Homo sapiens: one gene and its partner. The protein of the gene in region 1 interacts with the protein of each later gene in a pairwise test. Each region holds a gene or a part of one and is shown in the gene's direction. Other genes may lie near its edges.

Evidence for each region. Proteins that work in one complex are often made in the same cells at the same time.
Region 2: the proteins of SNX15 (region 1) and RTN4 interact in binary tests that used the Homo sapiens proteins (3 or more experiments, as listed by UniProt).

The regions. Positions count from the first base shown.
Region 1 is NC_000011.10:65,030,438-65,037,466, forward strand, and holds part of SNX15 (sorting nexin-15), read left to right. Parts: intron 1-1,730; coding exon 1,731-1,766; intron 1,767-1,993; coding exon 1,994-2,114; intron 2,115-4,409; coding exon 4,410-4,525; intron 4,526-4,621; coding exon 4,622-4,769; intron 4,770-5,082; coding exon 5,083-5,226; intron 5,227-7,029. UniProt on the Homo sapiens protein: May be involved in several stages of intracellular trafficking. Overexpression of SNX15 disrupts the normal trafficking of proteins from the plasma membrane to recycling endosomes or the TGN.
Region 2 is NC_000002.12:55,040,448-55,047,476, reverse strand, and holds part of RTN4 (reticulon-4), read left to right. Parts: intron 1-150; exon of another isoform or gene 151-661; intron 662-7,029. UniProt on the Homo sapiens protein: Required to induce the formation and stabilization of endoplasmic reticulum (ER) tubules. They regulate membrane morphogenesis in the ER by promoting tubular ER production.

The DNA.
Region 1 (7,029 bases):
CCATTTTGGCCTTCCAAAGTGTTAGGATTACAGGCCACCATGACCCACCGTACCTGGCCTATAATTTTTTTTTTTTTTTTGAGATGGAGTCTCACTGTGTTGCCAGGCTGGAGTGCAGTGGCATGATCTCAGCTCACTGCAACCTCTGCCTCCTGGGTTCAAGTGATTCTCCTGCCTCAGCCTCCTGAGTAGCTGGGACTACAGGCACTTGCCACCACGCCTGGCTAATTTTTGTATTTTTAGTAGAGACAGGATTTCACCATGTTGGTTGGCCAGGCTGGTCTCGAACTCCTGACCTCAAGTGATTCTCCCACCTCGGCCTCCCAAAGTGCTGGGATTACAGGCATGAGACACCACACCTGGCCACTCAATGGCTTTTAAATAGTTTCTTTTACCAGAATATTTTAGGCAAGTCTCTGTTGTCAAAAGCAAAGTCCAGGGTTTTAGTCCCAGCCATCTTTCTTACTTAGTGTGTGGTCTACTATGGCCACACCTCTCAGAGCCTCCATTTCCTCATCTCTTAAGTGGGCATGTCAATTATGTCTGCCTCAGTGGGATCTAGGATAAGAAATAGATGTTTTTATTTATTTATTTAGTGTGTGAGAGACAGGGTCTCACTCTCTCCAGGCTGGAGTGCAGTGGTGCAATCTCAGCTCACTGCAACCTCTGCTTAACATGCTCAAGTGATCCTCCCACCTCAGCCTTCTAAGTAGCTGGGACTACAGGTGTGTCACGCCACCACACCCAGCTAATTTTTTGTATTTTTTGCAGATACTGGGTGTCACTATGTTGCCCAGGCTGGCCTCAAACTCCTGGACTTAAGTGCTCTGCCCACCTGGGCCCCCTAAAGTGCTGGCATTACAGGTGTGAGCCACCGTGCCTGGCATAGGAGATGTTATTAAACTGTCAAGTACCCCAAACCATAGGACATTATTTTAAAATTATTATGAACATAACGATGAAAACTGAATCTTGTTTTCACCTCAGACCCAAGTCTGCCCTTCCAGGGACTTCAACTCCAGTGATGGTTTCTTCTGTGTCCAGGGCGCTGAAGCGCAGGATCTTCTCCCGCAGGGAAGGAGGTTCCTGAGGCAGAACCTCCCTTCTTTGGAGGCTTGGGGTTCTTTGGTTTCAGAAGTAGATGGAGGGACTTGGTCTGTTCAAGGAACTGGGATAAAAATTGGGCTGATGGCCGGGTGCTCACGCCTGTAATCCCAGCACTTTGGGAGGCTGAGGCGGGCGGATCACTTGAGGTCATGAGTTCCAGACCAGCTTGGCCAACATGGGGAAACCCCATCTCTACTAAAAATACAAACATTAGCAAGCGTGGTGGTGCATGTCTGTAGCTTCTTGGGAGGCTGAGGTAGGAAAATCGCTTGAACCCTGAAGGCAGAGGTGGCAGTGAGCCGAGAGTGTACCACTGCACTCCAGCCTGGGCGACAGAGCGAGACTCCATCTCAAAAAAAAAAAAGTTGGGCTGAGGTTGGAGCAGTCCAAATGGGCCTTTAGGGGTCCTCCTATTTGATAGATGGAGAAACTGAGGTACATAGTAGGAAAAGTTGCTAAAATTACACGCGAAGGCTTAAAGCCAGGGTGCCTTGATGCCAGAGGCCAATGGCCAAAGGCTACTGCCCCGTGAGGGGGACTAGGAGGCACCTGGGGCATTACAGGGTGAGAGGGTGTCAGATGGCAGTCTCTGGTCTCAACCAGCTCTTGCCTTTCTTTCTCAGTTCATCTCAAAGAAGGACCCAGAGGATGTCAAAGAGGTGAGGCTCCTGGGAGGAAGAGGGACTGTTCTGCAGTTCCAGATCTGGAAACTGTCAAGGGGCAGCTGGTAACTCTGCTTGGACATCGGCCCTCCTTCCTCCCTGTCCCTGGGCGAGGGGCTGCTGCAGCTGCTTCCTGATCCTCACGCCCCCTGGGGGCAGGCTAGGCATGGGGGCGGCTGCCTCCCACCATTGCTGGTTCTGGGCAAGTCTCATGTACCTCATAGGTGGTGGTCTGGAAGCGGTACAGCGACTTCCGCAAGCTGCATGGAGACCTGGCCTACACCCACCGCAACCTCTTCCGCCGCCTCGAGGAGTTCCCTGCTTTCCCCCGGGCCCAGGTGTTTGGTGAGTGTTAGATTGGGGCACTCGGGCCAAAGATGGAGGGAGCATTGGGCAAAAGGGGACCTCCGCCAGTGGGGGCTGGATAGAGAGGGCCTGAAACCCTGGGCAGAGTCATGTTTGGAAGGGCCCTTAGAGATGACCTCATTTGACAGATGGGGAAACTGAGGCTCAGAGTAGCCTAACCCTTACTGTGTATTTCACCTTTTAACATTCCTGTTGGGCCAGGCGTGTGGCTCACGCCTGTAATCCTAGCACTTTGGGAGGCCAAGGCAAAACTCCATCTCAAAGGAAAAAAAATCCTGTCTTTATCAGCTCCATTTTATTTTCCTTTTTCTTTTTTGTTGTTGTTGACAGCCTCACTTTGTCACCCAGGCTGGAGTACAGTGGCGCTGTCTTGGCTCACTGCAACCTCCACCTTCCAGGTTCAAGGGATTCTCTTGCATCAGTCTCCCCAGTAGCTGGGATAACAGGTGTGCACCACCACGCCTGGCTAATTTTTGTATTTTTAGTAGAGACAGAGTTTCATCATATTGGCCAGGCTGGTCTTGAACTCCTGACCTCAGCTGACCTGCCCGCCTTGGCTTCCCAAAGTGCTGGGATTACAGGCGTGAGACACTGCACCCGGCCCATCTCAATACTTAGTATATTGATTACATGTTGCAATGAGAATATTTGGGATATATTGGGTTAAATAAAATATTAAAATTAACTTGTGGCTAGGTGTGATGGCTCACACCTGTAATCCCAGCACTTTGGGAGGCCGAGGCAAGCGAATCACGAGATCAGGAGTTTGAGACCAGCCTGGCCAACGTGGTGAAACCCCGTCCCTACTAAAAATACAAATAATTAGCTGAGTGTAGTGGCAAGTGCTTGTAATCTCAGCTACTCAGGAAGCTGAGGAAGGAGAATCGCTTGAACCTGGGAGGCAGAGGTTGCAGTGAGCCAAGAGTGTGCCATTGCACTCCAGCCCAGGCGACAGAGTGAGACTCCGTCTCAAAAAAAAAAAAAAAAAAAAAATTGTTTCTTTTTTCCTATTATTTAATCTAGCTGCTAGAAAATTTAAAATTGCATATGTAGCTCATATCTGTATTAGACAGTGCTGACCAGTTGCTTGGGTCTGCATACTCATGTGAGATGTTCTTTTTTGTTATTGGTTTTTGTTTTTGTTTTTTGAGACAGAGTCTCACTCTGTCACCCAGGCTGGAGTCCAGTGGCATGATATCAGCTCACTGCAAACTCTGCCTCCCAGGTTTGAGCGATTCTCCTGCCTCAGCCTCCCAAATAGCCAAGTAGCCACCCAAGTAGTGTGCGCCACCACACCTAATTTTTTTTTATTTTTAGTAGAGACAGGGTTTCACCATGTTGGCCAGGCTGGTCTCGAACTCCTAACCTCAAGTGATCCACCTGCCTCGGCCTCCTAAAACGCTGGGATTATAGGTGTGAGCCACCGCACCTGGCCGAGATGTTCTTTTGAAGCAAGGTAAAGGATTGCTGCTGTCAGGTTATGCCAGGCCAGTGGGGAAGTACCACAGACTGGCCGCACAGTAACTGGACCAGAGTTAGCCTGCTCTGCAAAATACCTAGGACAGAGCAGTGAAACTGTGGCTCGCACCTGTAATCTCAGTGCTTTGGGAAGCCAAGGCAAGGTAATCACTTGAGCTCAGGAGTTCAAGACCAGCCTGGGCAACATGGTAAAACCCCATCTCTACAAAAAATACAAAAATTAGCCAGGCATGATTGTGTGCACCTATAGTCCCAGCTACTTGGGAGGCTGAGGCGGGAGGGCGGCTTGATCCCAGGAGGCAGAGGTTGCAGTGAGCTGAGATCGTGCCACTGCACACCAGCCTGGGTAACACAGCCAGTCCTTTTCTCAAAAAATAAACGGGGGCTCCTTGCTTTGTGACCTTGGGCAAGTCACTTTCCCTCTCTGAGCCTTACTTTTCTCATTAGATCAAAGCCATCAGAAATGCTTTTGTTTCTTGTTAACTGCCTAGCTCCCCCTGGGTAGGATATGATATTCACAAGGGCAGAGACTGGTTCCTCCCCTGTTCACCTTCTGAGTCTAGCATATAGTAGGTGCTCAGTAAACATCTGGCAAATGAATGAATAGGGAAATTGATCCCTCCTGGAAGCCCCTACCTCACCCCAGGAGGAACCAGGGCAGATTGCTGGGAGAATGGGTAGGAGGGCAGTGAGTTGCTCAGAGCATCTCAGGCAGGACCAGGAAAAGTGGCCTTGGGGCAGAAGCCCCTGTGGGTCACCGCCACTCTCCCCTGTTCCTTGTCCTGGGGGCCGTAGGCCGGTTTGAAGCCTCAGTGATCGAGGAGCGGCGAAAGGGGGCAGAGGACCTGCTTCGCTTCACTGTGCACATACCTGCGCTCAACAACAGCCCCCAGCTCAAGGAGTTCTTCCGGGTATGTGCACCTTCCACCTTCCCAGAACTTGGGCCACTTACCCACCCACCAGATTGCACCCCATGACTCCCCATGTCTGATCTTTCTGTCCTGCAGGGTGGGGAGGTGACCCGACCCTTGGAGGTGTCCAGGGACCTACACATCCTGCCACCCCCTCTGATCCCCACCCCGCCCCCTGATGACCCCCGGCTATCCCAACTGCTCCCTGCAGAAAGGAGGGGCCTCGAGGAATTGGAGGTGCCAGGTACATCGGGGTGGGAGGAGGGAACCAGGGCTGGAGGGTGCAGAGTGGGGAGGGCGGCCACACTCCCTCCTCAGTGATCTTACTGAGAAATGTGTGTGTGTCCCAGGTCTATCACTTAACTGGCTGAGGAACTTTGGGCAGGTCCTTTTCCTTCTCTGTGCTACAGTTTCTTGATCTGTAAAATGAGCACAAACCCTAATAACAGGCTTGTCTATGCCCATGGTTGCTGCAAGGGTTTAAGGAGAGAGTAATTCTATTTTGAAAGCTGAGAAATAAACGCAGGTATTCATGACCCCACTTATCTCTTCCTCAGTGGACCCCCCACCATCCAGCCCTGCCCAGGAGGCCCTGGATCTCCTCTTTAACTGTGAGAGCACCGAGGAGGCATCTGGTTCCCCTGCCCGAGGCCCCCTCACCGAGGCTGAGCTTGCCCTCTTCGACCCCTTCTCCAAGGAAGGTAATGAGCTGGGACAGCCGGGAAGGAGCCAGGGCAGGACGTCCTTGGGACAGGGAGGAGGGCAGAGCCCCACTAGCCTGCTCAGTGCCTGCGCAGATCAGGGAGAGACGTCTCCTCAGCAGTGCTGCCCTGTGGGCCAATAGCAGCTTCAATGAGAATTAGAAGCCCTGTGCCAGGGCACGTGGTGTGGTGTGCTGGATGCACCTGTGCAACAAATAGCCACGAGGAAGGAAAGGAGGCACTTCCCATGTTGGGGCCATCTCACTGAGAAGGCTTTGGAAAGAGCCGGGTCACACTGCTCTGGGACATTTTAGTTCCTTCCCTGCAAGCTCTTGGTGGGATTTCCTGACTGGCCAGGGTCTGGCTGCAGATCCTGAAGGCAAGAGGCCTGCTGGTCAATGGGAGTGAGTTCTCAGCTCAAAGGGCAGCTGCAAAGGGAAATCCCTCTGGGGGCCTGGAGCCACTGGCATTTGGGGATGCTGGAGGTAGAAGGGCCCCCCCAATGGAGGTCAGGGTCCTGGGCACCTTCTTGCTGTGAGATCCTGGGACTCGACAGTCCCAAGCTCTGAGACACTGGAGTTTTTCATTCTAAAATTTGCCAACGCCTGGCACATTGGCTCACACCTGTAATCTCGACACTTTGGGAGGCTGAGGCAGGAAGATTGCTTGAGCCCAGGAATTCAAGACCAGCCTGGGCAATATAGCAAGAGTCCATGTCTGTTATTCTTTTTCTTTTTTTGAGACAGAGTCTCACTTTGTCGCCCAGTCTGGAGTACAGTGGCGCAATCTCTGCTCACTGCAACCTCCCAGGTCCAAGCGATTCTCCTGCCTCAGCCTCCTGAGTAGCTGCGACTACAGGCGCGCACCACGGTGCCTGCTAATTTTGTATTTTTAGTCGAGATGGGATTTTTCCATGTTGGTCAGGCTGGTCTCAAACTCCCGACCTCAGGTGGTGCGCCCGCCTCAGCCTCTGAAAGTGCTGGGATTACGGATGTGAGCCACCGCGCTTGGCCCGTTTTTTTTTTTGAGATCGAGTCTTGCTCTGGATTGCCGAGGCTGGAGTGCAGTGGCGCGATCTCAGCTCACTCCCACCTCCGCCTCCCGGATTCAAGCGATTCTCCTGCCTCAGCCTCCTGAGTGGCTGGGACTACAGGCGCGCGCCACCACGCCTGGCTAATTTTTGTATTTTGAGTAGAGACAGGGTCGCACCATTTTGGTCAGGCTGGTCTCAAACTCCTGACACTCAAGTGATCCACCTGCCTCCGCCTCCCAGAGTGCTGAGATTACGGGCGTGAGCCAAAATGCCCTGCCTCTTTCACTTTTCTTGTTCTGCCTCCTCCCGTTCCTGCTCCTGCCTCTCCAGGGTTGGGGAGTGGGAAGAAGGAATGGGAGGGAAAGGCAATGTTGGTGTCACAGGGCTGTTATGCCTGGCCTCTGGGTGGCAGGCATCCAAGTGCTCTGTCCTTGTGCCAGCTGAGTCCCTGCTGGGCAGCTAGCTGCCTGGGCAGGAGCTTTTCTATTTTTTTTCCTCTCCTTTTTAATTTTTTTATTTTTTTTTATTTATTTTTTGAGACAGAGTCTGGCTCTGTCACCAGGCTAGAGGGCAGTGGTGCGATCACGGCTCACTGCAGCCTCCAACTCCTAGGCTTAAGCGATCCTCCCACCTCAGCCTCCCAAATAGCTGGGACAGGACCACAGGCATGCACCATCATGCCCAGCTAAGTTTTTGATTTTTTGTAGAGATGAGATCTCACTATGTTGCCCAGGCTGGTCTCAAGCTCCTGGACTCAAGTAGTCCTCCCA
Region 2 (7,029 bases), on another chromosome or scaffold:
ACACTAATTGCCATATTAAAGGTCTTAGAAGATGAGGAGTAACTCAATCTTTTCCTTTTTCTTTATGAAAAAGACATACTTGAGGGAAACTGAGGTAAGAGAAAAATATGAAATATATTTTTAAACAGGAATTTTTTTTTTTTTTTTTTGAGATAGTCTCCCCCTTGTCACCAGGCTGGAGTGCAATGACGCAATCTTGGCTCACTGCAACCTCCGCCTCCCAGGTTCAAGTGATTCTCCTGCCTCAGCCTCCCGAGTAGCTGGGATTACAGGCGCCTGCCACCACGCCTGGCTAATTTTTGTATTTTTAGTAGAGACGGGATTTTACCATGTTGGCCAGGCTGGTGGTCTTGAACTCCTGACCTCCAGTGATCCACCCACCTTGGCCTCCCAAAGTGTTGGGATTACAGGCATGAGCCACTGCGCCTGGCCACAGGAAGTTTAATGATTGACAAAAGCATACTAATCTTGTATTGGTATGGGAACAAAGAAAATAGTTCTGTCTTTGAACATTAGGGATTCAGGGGGTGACAGCACTCTCTTGGAATCTTGTGTGTTGGAATGCTGAGGTTGGAAGGCAATGGGGAAAGAATATTGCCTGTTCTACAGAGTTCCCTAATTCCATATTGATGATACCTATTGGGAAACTTTAGTTTTTTTAGTAAGTGTAAGAACATTGTGATTATGGTTGTGGATAGTTAACCATTTTCAATGTGTCTGGATTTCTTAATGCATTCAAGAGTTTGTTCATTAATTCAACCCATTATTGATTACCTACCAAGAGACAGGATCTATTCTAAGCTTTGAGGGTATAGCAATAAGCAAGACACATGCTCCCCCTTGGGAGAGTACAGATAATAAGCACATAAATAAAGAACCCAGAATAGTGGTGTTATGAGGAAAATAAACAGGATAATGGCATAGAGAATGATGGGGATTTATGGGGGCTTTTTTAGGTTAGGTGACACTAAGACAGGCTTAGAAGGTGAGATTTGAGCTGCAGAGAGAAAACATTTCCAAGCAACTTCAGGGCAAAACCCTGAGGCAGGAATGAGCTCTTTGTGTCTGAGAATCTAGTGTAAGACTAGTGAGAAAAACTAGTGGGAGAGTGAAGAGGTGGCCTTACCCACCCAGATCATTGGGGGTCTCTAACAGGCAATGGTAAAAATGTTTAGCTTTTTAAAAAAATAAAAATATGCTTATTAAATAATTATATTGTGATTTTGGAACTAAAATAAGTTTGGAAGATTCAGGGCTACTGAGAGGACTGATGTGAGACAAAGGTGAGAAATGTGCAGAGCAGGGTTAGAAGCATAGACTAGCCTGCCTGGAAGAGAGGGTTTCTAGATCACTGACACTTGTCTGTTTAACATTGCTGTTTACGTTATTTATGAGTAAGCCCTGATTTTCATCTGTTAATAAGTTGTAATTTTACTGTTTGCTGTTGTGCCCAGAGCATCTCCATCGCAATGCAGTAACTGAAGTGAGACTAAAACCTCTCACTTGAGGGCCATTTTTCATGGGAAAATACTTGGCTTAGTGGTTGGTTAAGTTAGGCTTTGAGGATATGCGCAGAAAACTCTGGCTAGAAATCGATTTGAGAGCAGTGCAAACATAATTAAGGGTGACTTCGAACTGGTCTCTGGACATGTTCTAAACCAAGGTTAATTAAGACCGAAAATATGTAGATCTGGATTCTGAAAGATACTGAATGCCAAATTAAGGAATTTGGATTTTATCATTCCACTTTAATCCATGCTCTGCTATCCAGTTGCCCTTGCTTTTGGTAATTTATATTATGAAACCAAAATTGTTTTTTTTAATTGTTGTTTCTAAAGTTATTGTTTTTCACCCCTTCTCGAATTAGAGCTTTTGGCTTTGGGAAGACAGCCATTGAAGGTTATTTGAACTGAGGCAAGGCACCGTGAAAGCAGTATTAGAAAATTGGTGACAATATTCAAGATAGGTGGGAAGGAAAAGCAGATGAATTATTTAGAAAGCTATTACAGTAGTTCTGAGAAAGATGAGTAGGGCCTGAACTATTTCATTATTTGTTCATTCAGTGAAAATGGAATAGAAGGGAGGAATATAAGAGTATAAGAAGCACGCTTTCTTTAATTGGCTGTGAATCTGTTTTTATAGTTAGTTTACGAAGAGGCTGTATGAAAGACGAATTGATAGGACTTGGAAACCATGAATGTAAAGACAAAGAAAAGAATATTAGTGCTTATTAAATCAGTTTCAGAGACTGCCAAAATTTAATTGCCATGAAAATTTGTATAAAATTGAATATTGCTCATAAATACAGATTATGGGTTGGGGCTTAAAAATTACTAGTTTTTACTATCATGAAGCCATTTATTATATGATCATTTTTATTGGCGTAGTAGCATGTATTAGAAATTTTAAGATTTTGAGTGACATATGGTTTAAATATTAGGTATCAGTTCTTAATATAAAGTCCAAGTTCCCAGGAAGTGGATGCTTCTAAACACAAGAAAGTCATGCCCTGTCCATTCCCCACTTTCATTTTTGTGATTCTGAATAATTTCTGGTTAAGCCATTTCTTATTTTTAAAAGTTGGGAATAAGTAGTATACTCCTCATGGATATGGTGAATTATGTTTCAGATTGGTTCCTGGGCAACTGAGTGTCAAATTTGTGGTCTTTTTTTTTTTTTTTTTTTTTTTTTAGTGATTTGCAAACTCTCTCAAATCCTTTTTAAAATGAAGTGATGGGTATATGTGGAACCACTGATAAATAACTGCATGGAATAGTGTTTAGAAAACATGCTATTTTAGTGCTATATTATTGTAAACTTAAAGGATTTGCCATGTTATAAAAACATTTCTGAAAAGGAGCATGTTACCTATTGTCCATTAATTGGCTTTGTTTTATGTGTAGTTATTTTCTTTTTAAAAATCTAAAAACCAAAAAACAATGGTCTCACTTTTGTCCAGGCTGGTCTCAAACTTGGGGCCTGAAGCAATCCTCCTGCCTGGACCTCCCAAAGTGCTGGGATTACAGGCATGAGCCACCATGCCTGGCAAGTTTTTTTGTTTGTTTGTTTGTTTGTTTGTTTCTTTTGAGACAGAGTCTTACTCTGTCGCTCAGGCTGGAGTGCAGTGGCATGATTATGGCTCACTATACCCTTGACCTCCTGGGCTTAAGCAGTCCTCCCACTTCAGCCCCCCAGGTAGCTGAGACTACAGGTGCACACCACCATGCTGGCTATTTTTAAAATTTTTTAAAAAAACTTTTATATTTATGTATTTATATTTTGGAGACAGGGTCTTGCTCTTTCACCCAGGCTAAAGTATAGTGGTGCAGTCTTGGCTCACTGCAGCCTCATCTTCTGGGCTCAAGTGATCCTGCCACCTCAGCCTCCCAACTAGCTGGGACCACAGGCACGTACCACCACGCCCGGCTAATTTTTGTGTTTTTCGTGCAGATAGGGTTTCGCCATGTTGCCCAGGCTGGGCTCAAATTCCTGAGGTCAAGCAGTCTTCTCGAAGTGCTGGGTTTACAGGCGTGAGCCACCACACCCAGCCTAAATATATTTTTATTTTTATTTTTATTTTATTTTATTTTTGAGGTGGAGTCTTGCTCTGTAGCCCAGGCTGGAGTGCAGTGGCGCAATCTTGGCTCACTGCAACCTCCACCTCCTAGGTTCCAGCAATTCTCCTGCCTCAGCCTCCCGAGTAGCTGGGACCACAGGCATGTGCCACCACACCTGGCTAATTTTTGTATTCTTAGTAGAGACGGGGTTTCACCATGTTGGCCAGGCTGGTCTTGAACTCCTGACCTCAGGTGACCCACCTGCCTCGGTGTCCCACAATTCTGGGATTACAGGTGTGAGCCACTGCTCCCAGCCTTATTTTTATTTTTTTAAAGATGGGGTCTTACTATGTTGGCCAGGTTGGTCTTGAACTCCTGGGCTCAAGCAGTTCTCCCACCTCGACTTCTGAAAGTGTTGAAATTACAGGTGTGAGCCACTGTGCCCCGCCATTTATTTTCATAATATACCTTCAAGCAACTTATTAGAATAACTTGATTCAAAGCCTCAATTTAATGGTTCCTTTTTAAGGTACTTTGCTAGCCCAGGATAAAAGTATAAACTGAATGGCTATTTCTTGATTCTTCCCTGGAACCCTTAAATAAATAGAAGTAAATGTTGCAGATATACTATACTTATGGTACATTCTTTGAGACTTTTTGTTCCTGTTTCTAAAGGGATCAGGTTCTTCTGAGGATGACAGCACTAGGGATGGGAACTGTAATGGTAAAACCATAGTTCTCAGTAGTGTTTGAATGAATGTGACCTTTGTGGATAGCTAGTGCAGGACATAGGTATGCAAAATGATGAGACCCAGCTTTACTGATGCTAAGATTTTCTCAGACTAATGCCATCATCATCCTTTTTAACCCCAAAGGAGGAGTTGATAATTTCATATTTAAGCTATTGATATTTATGTTTCTTGGAATGATGATCATTGATTTTTAAGTTGCTTTCATCACGTGTTTCCATAATATTCTGTTCTTACCTCTTCATAGTATATATCATTCTATATAAGGTAATGGTATGGTTACTGATTTCTTTCCTCCACCAGACAGTGTACTCCTTGAGGAAAGGTGCTGTGACCTTTTTCTTTGAGGAAAAGGACTGTATGCATTGTGTCTGCATTGCAGTGCCTTAGATGTGATAGGCACTCAGTTTGTTGAATGAGAAAGATGCTGATCTTCATATTCTGTATAGTTCTAGAATTACTATAATATCTTCTCTCAATAAAAATCCCAAATCTTACGAAAGCATTTATTTATTTATGTATACAAGGTAACAATTCCAAACAGTACTACAAGAATACACAGAAAAGTAACTCTTTCTACCTGTTACCCAGATTTCCACAAATTGTCTTCTGTAGATCCACCCTCTGTTAGTAGTTTCTTGAGTATCTGTTTAGAGATAATCTGTGGATAAATATTTATTTATACATGTATATCCTTTTCACTTTATTTTCCACAAAAATAGATGCAGAGGACTCTGGGGATGTACCATATTTTATTTAATCAGTCCCTTATTGATGGTTATTTAGGTTGATACTTAGTTTTTTCTCTTACAAATACTATTTCTGTGAACACTCTTGTATACACTTCTTTGGGAATACATGCCATTATATATGTTGTAGGATAAATCTGTGCAAGTAGAATTACTGCTTCAAAGGATATTTGCATTTAAAATGTTGGTAGCTAATGCCAAAGTGTCATTCAAAGAATGGTTCCAACCTTTATTCCCACCAACCTGTTAAGGTACCTTTTCCCTTATATCTTTACCAACACAGTATATTAGTGAACTAATACATTGTTTAGCAAATTGTTCTTTTAAATTTGAGTCATTTTTCATAGGCTTAGGTGTCAAATTTTTTCTGATCACAGCTTTTGCCTATTCTTTTGGGTTTTTGGTCTCATGTATGTAGATTCACTTAATCTGCATTGTAAGGAAACTAGCCTTTTGTCATATGTCTTGAAAACTTTTTATTGATTTGTTATTTGTATTTTGACCATATGGTATGTTTTTCTGTTTAGAAATTTTTATGTAGTCAGATTTATCATTTTCTTTTATGACTTTGAGTCATAAAAGTGAAAAAAGTCATTGAGTTTTATGTAATCCTTAGAAAATCCTTCTTGAGGATCATAAAAATTTTCCCCCATGTTTACTCCTAGTAAGTACTTTTATACTTTTTATGATTTCATTTTAACATTTAATTATTTGATTTATTTGCAGTTTGTTTTGTTCTAGAGAGTGAAGTAGTGAAATAATTTTATATTTCAAGATTATTTCCCATTTGTTCCAATACCTTTTATTTTGAATTATCCTTCTTAACCACTTTGAAGTACCATTTTTGTCATATTCTTGTAGTATGGGTGAAATATTTCCTCTGCTTTTCCATTTATCTGTCAGTTCACACAGAAGTATCAGACTGTTGTGCTATAATTTTTAAATACTAGCTAAACGGCTTTTCCATAAATATTTTTCTTGGCTATCTTATGTGTGTATAATTTTCTACTTCATCTTAAAATTTTTTTTATCTTGTCCCCTCTCCCTCTGTTGGAGTTTTAGTAGGTTGCATTACATTTATGGATTAATTTTGGGGAGAATTGAAATACATTCGGTGTTGATATTGTGTATTTTTCCATAAACACGTGGTTTTTATTAACATGTATTTAAAAAAAATTTAGCATATAATTAGGTGAACTAGAGACTTTTAAAAATAAATATTCTAGCCTCCTTGTAACATACTGAATTATACAGGTATTTGGCTCTCTCTTTTCAATTGATAATTGACTGAGAAAGAAAGCTAAGTCTTCCTGCTTTTTCATTTCCAAAAAAAAAAAAAAATTGTGTTGAGAAAGAAAGAAATATTCTCTGTACTCTTGTATTAGGAGCTATAGCTGCCAAATACTGGATTTTTTTTTTTTAAAGCAGTCTCTTTACATAGGTGGCCCTCTACTTTTCAAAAATAATTATTTCTTTAATAGCTTGTTTTTCTCATTGATGGAATTGTTACCACAGATACAGAAAGTTTATAAAGTTTTGTTGTTCAAGAGTTTGGAGTTGCTGCTTATATTGGTGGTCTCTTGGAAGTTCAATATTAAGAAAAAAATTAATATATTCCTTTTTTTTTTTAACTAGGCCTAGGGCTGAGTAAGAGGACAAGAAAGATGAATAGAGGTTGTACTTATGAGAGGTATAGGTAGCAGATGAAGGAAAAAATACAGGCCCTTAGTTGTAAAGAATTTTCTGCTCTTAAAACCAGAGGAGTTTTGTGATTGGCCTTACAGGACATATTTACAGATCTGTGAACTGCTTTTGTGGAAAGAGAGAAGCTTACTTAAGGATTCCAGGTCTGCCTACGTGTTCTTTCTCCCCAACTTTGTAGGTTGATTTATAAACTCGCCTAAATGGAAGGTGCCATTATTGAGTTCATTTATCTCAGTGCCCTGACAACCGTAGATGGAGGTGACCTAAAAG